Regions from separate parts of the Homo sapiens genome. Here region 1 is reported to be linked to region 2. Evidence: microRNA targets listed by miRTarBase, many of them from high-throughput screens and not tested one by one. Region 2 holds a microRNA gene; the other region holds the end of a gene's coding sequence.

What was found. Region 2 holds the annotated microRNA hsa-miR-6883-3p (UUCCCUAUCUCACUCUCCUCAG, at 2,004-2,025, shown strand). A microRNA usually pairs through its seed, bases 2 to 8, with sites in the 3' UTR of a target mRNA and lowers its output. Matches are read on the target gene's strand: a 7mer-m8 pairs with bases 2 to 8, a 7mer-A1 pairs with bases 2 to 7 and ends in A, and an 8mer does both.
Region 1: the mRNA of DDX17 is a reported target of hsa-miR-6883-3p. Seed matches in the 3' UTR shown: 7mer-m8 at 1,617-1,623 and 7mer-A1 at 2,477-2,483.

What each region holds. Positions count from the first base shown.
Region 1 is chr22:38,482,111-38,486,221 of GRCh38, reverse strand. It overlaps DDX17 (DEAD-box helicase 17), which reads left to right. Exons shown (of 13, transcript NM_006386.5): 13 at 1-2,784. The coding sequence ends at 287. It overlaps KDELR3 (KDEL endoplasmic reticulum protein retention receptor 3), which reads right to left. Exons shown (of 5, transcript NM_006855.4): 5 at 2,775-3,726. The coding sequence ends at 3,686. Among named protein-coding and RNA genes, the nearest start is that of KDELR3, 16 kb to the right of the region's middle.
Region 2 is chr17:8,142,771-8,147,018 of GRCh38, reverse strand. MIR6883 (microRNA 6883) reads left to right here and starts at 1,948; the gene lies at 1,948-2,025. It overlaps PER1 (period circadian regulator 1), which reads left to right. Exons shown (of 23, transcript NM_002616.3): 14 at 17-122; 15 at 254-425; 16 at 517-647; 17 at 882-1,061; 18 at 2,026-2,268; 19 at 3,143-3,753; 20 at 4,184-4,248.

The DNA of each region.
Region 1 (4,111 bases), not on the chromosome of region 2:
ATGGTCAAGGCACCTATGGGGCAGCTGCTTATGGCACCAGTAGCTATACAGCTCAAGAATATGGTGCTGGCACTTATGGAGCTAGTAGCACCACCTCAACTGGGAGAAGTTCACAGAGCTCTAGCCAGCAGTTTAGTGGGATAGGCCGGTCTGGGCAGCAGCCACAGCCACTGATGTCACAACAGTTTGCACAGCCTCCGGGAGCTACCAATATGATAGGTTACATGGGGCAGACTGCCTACCAATACCCTCCTCCTCCTCCCCCTCCTCCTCCTTCACGTAAATGAAACCACTCAAGTGGTAGTGACTCCAGCAGACTTAATTACATTTTAAGGAACACTGTCTTTCCTTTTTTTTTCCTCTTCGCCTTTTCTTTTTTTTTCCTTTTTTCTTTTTTTTTTTTTAATTTTTCCCCCCAACCATCGTGATTTGTCTTTTCATGCAGATTAGTTAGAATTCACTGCCAGGTTTCTTCTGCCCACCAAAATGATCCAGTCTGGAATAACATTTTGTAAAAAAAAAAAAAATATATATATATATATATAGCTGACTGGAAGAGATTAATTTCTTCCCCCAACTTCTTGCATGTTGAAGATATTTGAGCTATTTTTCATCTAAAAGAGTAAGGTATTAGGCCCTTTTGTGGGAGCCCCATGTTTTGTTTTTCTGAGTTGGTGGGGAGGGAGGGAGGGGGAGGGCTGAATTGTTTTGCAGAGGAAGATGGCATCTGTGCTTTAAATTTCTCATTACTGGGTTAGAAAACAAAGAGGGATTGCCCTGCACATTTTCTTTTGTGCTTTTAAATGTTTCTTAAGTTGGAACAGGTTTCCTCGGGCCTGTTTTGACTGATTGCTGGAGTGCATTTGATAGTTAAAAATTACTAATTGGTTTTATTTCCCTTCACACTCTGCCTCCCCACTTCTCCCCCCGTTACTGAAAAATAACCATTTTAGTGTCAGGCTAGAAATTGAATTGCTGAGTTTTGTGTATCCTTTAAATTAAAAACCACAAGTGTTTATTGTAGTGGTTAAACTGTAGCATCTCAGCATCTGGGTGGAAGCTGCCTATATTTCTTCCCAGTTTAACTGGGGACCATCTGTGAAATTAATTTTCCATCCAGACAGCTGCTGTGAGCAAATGAACATAAATGCTCGCTGGAAATTTACTAACCAGTTTTTATATTGACCTGCAGTGTAAAAAGCACATTTAATTATAAACAATATATTCAAAATGGGCAAATTTTATTTTCAAATGCAGTGTAGAGCTAGATTAAAAGCAACTCTTTGCCACCTACTCTGCCCTTTTGGCAAAGTTACCTTGAACAAAGAATCTTAAGGGTTTATTAAGAACTCTTTATTTTCTTCATACCCTGTTCTCTGCAGTGCTTTCTAACAGCTTCTGGGTGCAGATTTTCTTCGGCATCCTTTTGCACTCAGCTTATTACAGGTAGGTAGTGCTTAAGAAAAGTCATGGAGGACTAAAGCCTAAGTCCTTTTCACTTTTCCTCCATCTGAAGGTAGGTGAGTTCATCCTCTTCATGGTAATGCTGTTTTACCAAGACTTTATAGCAGATGGACCCAGAAAGAATTTTCTGCTATTGTGTTCACTACAACAGGATAGGGACATCAGACAGCCCCAGAAACCCCTTCCAGATCTGATATGGGACTATTAATTTTTATGCTGTTAATTGGTATTCATTCACAATGCAGTTGAAGGGGGAAGGCTCCACTGCATTCTTTGGCTAAGGCCTGAATGCTTGCTCATCTGTAAGATCTATACTCGAGGTTTTGTTTTCCTTTTAAAATTCTTTAGGGAGAGAGGGATGGTTTCTGAGGGGTTCTGAAAGTATGATTCAATGTGCAACATACAGGTAGGTCTTCAGCATAAGCTGAAATATATGCATGTAAAAACTTTGACATCTTTTTTTTTAATTTTCCACTTTCTTCTTAACTTTACTTCTCTTTTTGTCCCCCCCCCATCTTACAGAAGTTGAGGCCAAGGGAGAATGGTAGGCACAGAAGAAACATGGCAAACTGCTCTGTGCTTTCAAACCAAAGTGTTCCCCCCAACCCCAAATTTGTCTAAGCACTGGCCAGTCTGTTGTGGGCATTGTTTTCTACAACCAAATTCTGGGTTTTTTTCTTCTTTCTTTAAACATAGAGGTACCACCACAAGGGATGCCCTACTCTCTCGCAGCTCTTGAAAGCATCTGTTTGAGGGAAAGGTCTCTGGGCAAGCAAGTGGTTATTTGGATTGCTTGCTTCCCTTTTTCCACCTGGGACATTGTAATCATAAAATAACAGTAAATTCCAAACCTCAAAAACTATTATGGCCTGAGCACAGCTGAAATCTAGCAGAGTTTAACTCTTCTGCCTCCATGTCTGTCACTTATAATTCAGGTTCTGCTGTTGGCTTCAGAACATGAGCAGAAGAATCGTTTTATGCTAGTTATTGCATTCATGGTTGAAACTCAACTTAGGGAAAGGGTTCCAATGTATTAAGCAATGGGCTGCTTCTCCCCAATCCTCCCTAACAATTCGTTGTGTGGACTTCTCATCTAAAAGGTTAGTGGCTTTTGCTTGGGATCAGTGCTCTCTATTGATGTTCTTGCTGGTCTCCAGACACATTCCTGTTGCATTAAGACTTGAAAGACTTGTAGATGTGTGATGTTCAGGCACAGGATGCTGAAAGCTATGTTACTATTCTTAGTTTGTAAATTGTCCTTTTGATACCATCATCTTGTTTTCTTTTTGTAGGTATAAATAAAAACACTGTTGACAATAAGGTGTGAGCTTTTATTGCTTAATTCTCTGAATAATTCAACGTAGACGTCTTAAAACAGTTTTTGTTTCAAGACAAAGATGGGGGATATTGGATTGACTGATTACTTTCGCACCTAAAACTGAAAGGAAAAAACTTAATACAAGAATTGGAATTGAAAACCCTAGCAGGATACCTAGTAGGTAAGGGTTTGGATATATCTGTATCTGCTCATAAGTAAAACAGTGATTGTGCAAATGGTACTCGCCTAAGTACCATTAGGTTATTGGTATTAAGGTACTAAGTACAAGGCAGGTATCAGCCACTGGTTTGAAAAAATTCAAACCAGTAAAAGATGAGTCACAAAACTCCTCCAGCCAAACCTGGTAAATTTGGTTTGCTTCTGGCCTGAAGGCAGTGTGAAAGTGAAATAAGTTTCACACTTAAAACTAGCTGACACCTTTATATCTTGACCACCTAAATTTGGTCATCTACCTGGAAAGTGGAAATTCACAAGAACGTACCCTAATATTTTAACTGGTCTTTAGTTGGGACATTCTAAGAGGAGGGACATTGTTCCAGATTGGGGTTGACTTGCTCATCATGAGTCTTGCCCTCAGGCCTTGGAGAACAATCATTTATGTTTTTTATTTCGTCGGTAAGACACCTTAAGGTTTCTTGTTGCAGTGAGGCACCATCTTTGTGCAGGTGGCCGAGGTTTTTTATGACCTTACAATGGGTCTTTAAGGGCGATCTATTGATGAGAAGGTCTTCTGGGTGGGATGATCAGGTTTTGCTGAAATCCACACTAAACACTTTTCTGGTTTTAACATTTGATCCCAAATTATGGATAAGTTGCCAAAGAGAACATTCAAAATAGTTTCCTTCATGTGCTTGTTAAGGCGTAGACTGTCTCTGAAGGTCCTCAGATTGGCATTGGAAGACTTAACTTCTTTCCCTTAAGGACTGGAAGAAAATGGAGATGAAATAAGAATTTACCATCTGATGAAAGGACTGCTTTATAACTTGATGCATAATCTTGGTATCATCTCTTAATGGCCGGCTCACAGTATATGTTCGATTGTTAAAGCAAAGGGGGAGTCCATCTCCGGTTGACTATGGACCTACTGATCCCCGACTTGGTTACTGGCACCCTTCCCCCCAGCTGTAAACTTAGCGATTGGCCTCAAATTGTCTATTGTACATCTCATACAATCAAATCAGCAGTCCTTCTCAAGTCCTAGAACTTGTGTCCACATGTCTTTCTACCTAGAGCCTTTTTCCTGATCAACTGCAACTGCCCCATAGCTAGTCACTGTACTTGGACTGCTTTCTACCCTACATAGCAGCT
Region 2 (4,248 bases):
GTGCTGTGTCCCACAGGTGACTTTCCAGCAGATCTGTAAGGATGTGCATCTGGTGAAGCACCAGGGCCAGCAGCTTTTTATTGAGTCTCGGGCCCGGCCTCAGTCCCGGCCCCGCCTCCCTGGTGAGTTGATGATGATGTGTGGGTGAAGAGACAGACCTGGGGGGTCCCCTGACCTTCACCCCCAACCCATTTGCTGTTTTTTTCCATGTGAGCTTGAGAAGGCTATTTTCCTCTTTCTCTCTTTGCCCCAGCTACAGGCACGTTCAAGGCCAAGGCCCTTCCCTGCCAATCCCCAGACCCAGAGCTGGAGGCGGGTTCTGCTCCCGTCCAGGCCCCACTAGCCTTGGTCCCTGAGGAGGCCGAGAGGAAAGAAGCCTCCAGCTGCTCCTACCAGCAGATCAACTGCCTGGACAGCATCCTCAGGTAAGGCCTGCCAGGCATCTTCTCCACCTCGGGCTCTAACCCTGCCCACCCCAAGCCCTGCTCTGATGCCCTGTGCTGTGTCCATCCCCAGGTACCTGGAGAGCTGCAACCTCCCCAGCACCACTAAGCGTAAATGTGCCTCCTCCTCCTCCTATACCACCTCCTCAGCCTCTGACGACGACAGGCAGAGGACAGGTCCAGTCTCTGTGGGGACCAAGAAAGGTAAAGATCCAATGCACCCTGCTCCCACTGCCCCGTCCTGGCCTGGTGGCCCTGTGTCTTTTCCCTTCTGCTTCTGGGCCCTCTTGCTCTGCCCTGCTCTCCTCCCCAGCCTCCTGGTCTCCAGACTGTTCCCTCTGTTCCCTACCACCATCCCCTTCCCCTTTTCCCTGGGATCCTCTCTCCTGACTTCCCAGTGGGGGTGGGGATGGTAACTGGCACCATCTCTCTGCACAGATCCGCCGTCAGCAGCGCTGTCTGGGGAGGGGGCCACCCCACGGAAGGAGCCAGTGGTGGGAGGCACCCTGAGCCCGCTCGCCCTGGCCAATAAGGCGGAGAGTGTGGTGTCCGTCACCAGTCAGTGTAGCTTCAGCTCCACCATCGTCCATGTGGGAGACAAGAAGCCCCCGGAGTCGGGTATGGGTGTGGAATTGGGGGGCAGTGCTTGGGCTCCACCGGTCTCCCAGCTAGAGCTCCCTCCTGCCTTTCCCCTCCCCTCTAGGGCCTGATGGAGAGAAGGAGGCCTCCCTTGACCTGGGGCTTGGGGCTACTGCTTCTTGCTCTCCCCTCCCTGCCAGGCTTCTCGGCTTTGCCCTTCCCCTGTTCTGCTTCTCGTATTGTTACTGTCAGTTGAAACACAGAGTCTGGGATAGAGGGTTTGCCCTGAGGTGCTGACCACACAGGGTCTGAAGGCAAGGAAAATTGAACATCCCTGAAGGGTCTTTGGATATTGACCTTGAAAATCATGAGGGGCTGGGCATGGTGGCTCAGGCCTGTAATCCCAGCATTTTGGGAGGCTGAGGTAGGAGGATCACCTGAGATCAGGAGCTCGAGATCAGCCTGGGCAACATGGTGAAACCCTGTATCTACTAAAAATGCAAAAATTAGCCGGGCGTGGTGGCGCGCGCCTGTAGTCCCAGCTACTCGGGAGGCTGGGACAGGAGAATCGCTTGAACCCAGGGGGTGGTGGTTGCAGTGAGCTGAGATCGCACCACTGCACTCCAGCTTGGGAGAAAGAGTGAGACTCCATGTCAAAAAAAAAAAAAAAAAGAAACAAGAAAATGTGTGAGGGAAGGCCAAGGGGTGGGCTTCTCTTCCAATGAGAGTTGTGACGGGGTCATCCCAGTAGAGTTCCTGGCAGGGAGTGGCCACTGGAGGGGCCTGAGTATCGTCTCTTCTTCTGGGCCAGCTTTGCATGGAGAGGAGGACCCAGGGCCAGCCGTTGGCAGAGAGGTGACCAAGAAACGTACATGGAGACCAGGCTTGGCTGTGGGGCAGAGCTGCCAGGGGTTGGCTAGGCTATCAGACAGGGAGGGTGTGGTATGGATGTGTTGACCCCTGAAGTGGTTCTGATGACCTTTCCCTATCTCACTCTCCTCAGACATCATCATGATGGAGGACCTGCCTGGCCTAGCCCCAGGCCCAGCCCCCAGCCCAGCCCCCAGCCCCACAGTAGCCCCTGACCCAGCCCCAGACGCCTACCGTCCAGTGGGGCTGACCAAGGCCGTGCTGTCCCTGCACACACAGAAGGAAGAGCAAGCCTTCCTCAGCCGCTTCCGAGACCTGGGCAGGCTGCGTGGACTCGACAGCTCTTCCACAGCTCCCTCAGCCCTTGGCGAGCGAGGTAGCCACCTGGGGCCTCCTGGAGCCTGCCCTCTGCCCAGTCTAGGACTGGATTGTTGGGGGGTGGGTCTTAAGGGAGGTGTTTCTGCTCCAGGGACCCAGGCTGGTGTTGCTTCCACCACTAGGCCCTGCCTAGGGACAGGCCCCTCGCTAGCTTCTCCCCACTAGGATGGGGTTCCGGGCTGCAGCCAGAGGAGGGCAGCCTGGGGGGATGGCACTGGGATGGGCAGGCAGAGGTGCTGTCTCCAGGTAAGCGACTTCAGGCCTAGCCTGGGGGCAGGGGCAGGAAGTATGCCCACTTAGGAGTCAGTTGTCACTGATGAAGAGACATGCATAGATTCTGGGCCAACTCTGGGTGGGGTCTGGGCTTCAAGGGCAGGTGGAAGGCAGCCCCTCCAGGTGCCTGAGGGAGATCCCCTGCAGGCAGACGCAGGACTCAGGACTGGGCTTTCCAGCCCCACTCTTCACTCCATTGCAAGCTAGGCAGAATACGGCCTCGATGGGCAGGAGGAATGCCTAGGCTGGCAGTGCCCACAGGAGTTTGGCGGACCAGAGCCATCTGTCCATGTGTCCATGGACTCACCCTGCTTCCTCCATCTGCCAGCATGCCTCCATCTTCCGCACACCCCCAGCTCGACCCCTCGTGTAACCTCTCCCTGGCCTTGTTCCTTTCTCAATAAATCCCCTTGTCCCTGGCTCCTGTGATTCTTCCCTGAAGGTGCCCCACCTCCTGAGTCCCCCGTTCTGTGTGGGTTGAGAAGCTCTCTCTGGGACCTTGGCCTGTCCTCTCCCTGGTCAGCGTGTCAGGGCAGTGTGGGTAGCAGGGGTACTAACCCCAGGTTGAGGTCCTTGCTAACCCTAGTCTCTCCCCACAGGCTGCCACCACGGCCCCGCACCCCCAAGCCGCCGACACCACTGCCGATCCAAAGCCAAGCGCTCACGCCACCACCAGAACCCTCGGGCTGAAGCGCCCTGCTATGTCTCACACCCCTCACCCGTGCCACCCTCCACCCCCTGGCCCACCCCACCAGCCACTACCCCCTTCCCAGCGGTTGTCCAGCCCTACCCTCTCCCAGTGTTCTCTCCTCGAGGAGGCCCCCAGCCTCTTCCCCCTGCTCCCACATCTGTGCCCCCAGCTGCTTTCCCCGCCCCTTTGGTGACCCCAATGGTGGCCTTGGTGCTCCCTAACTATCTGTTCCCAACCCCATCCAGCTATCCTTATGGGGCACTCCAGACCCCTGCTGAAGGGCCTCCCACTCCTGCCTCGCACTCCCCTTCTCCATCCTTGCCCGCCCTCGCCCCGAGTCCTCCTCACCGCCCGGACTCTCCACTGTTCAACTCGAGATGCAGCTCTCCACTCCAGCTCAATCTGCTGCAGCTGGAGGAGCTCCCCCGTGCTGAGGGGGCTGCTGTTGCAGGAGGCCCTGGGAGCAGTGCCGGGCCCCCACCTCCCAGTGCGGAGGCTGCTGAGCCAGAGGCCAGACTGGTGAGCACTGACCCCTGCGTCTGCCTGCCAGCCCCCACCCCAGCCCCGCCCCTCTGCCACCCTGTGCTGCCTGCTGTCTCTGCCAGGCTGGCGTCTCAGCCTCCAGGAGGTGGAGGGAGTCCCCAGCTGAATTTCTGAATGAGGCAGAAATTGGCTACCTCCTCTTTGAAGGGACAGTCCTGTCTGTCTGACAGGTGGTGAGGACATCTCAATAACTTCTGAGAGAGCATCTGTCACTTGGAAAGGGTCTGGCCTCACATCCCCACTCTTCGCCAGCTTTCTTCTCTCTCAGCCTGGCCCTACTGTCACGAAGTGGGGAGCAGAGACCACTGGGGTTGGATGTGCCTCTCCCCACAACCAGTAAGAGCAGTTGAAGGGAGGCCTAGGTGCTGACCCCTCCATCCCTCCTTGCCCCCCTCCCCTCCTCCAGGCGGAGGTCACTGAGTCCTCCAATCAGGACGCACTTTCCGGCTCCAGTGACCTGCTCGAACTTCT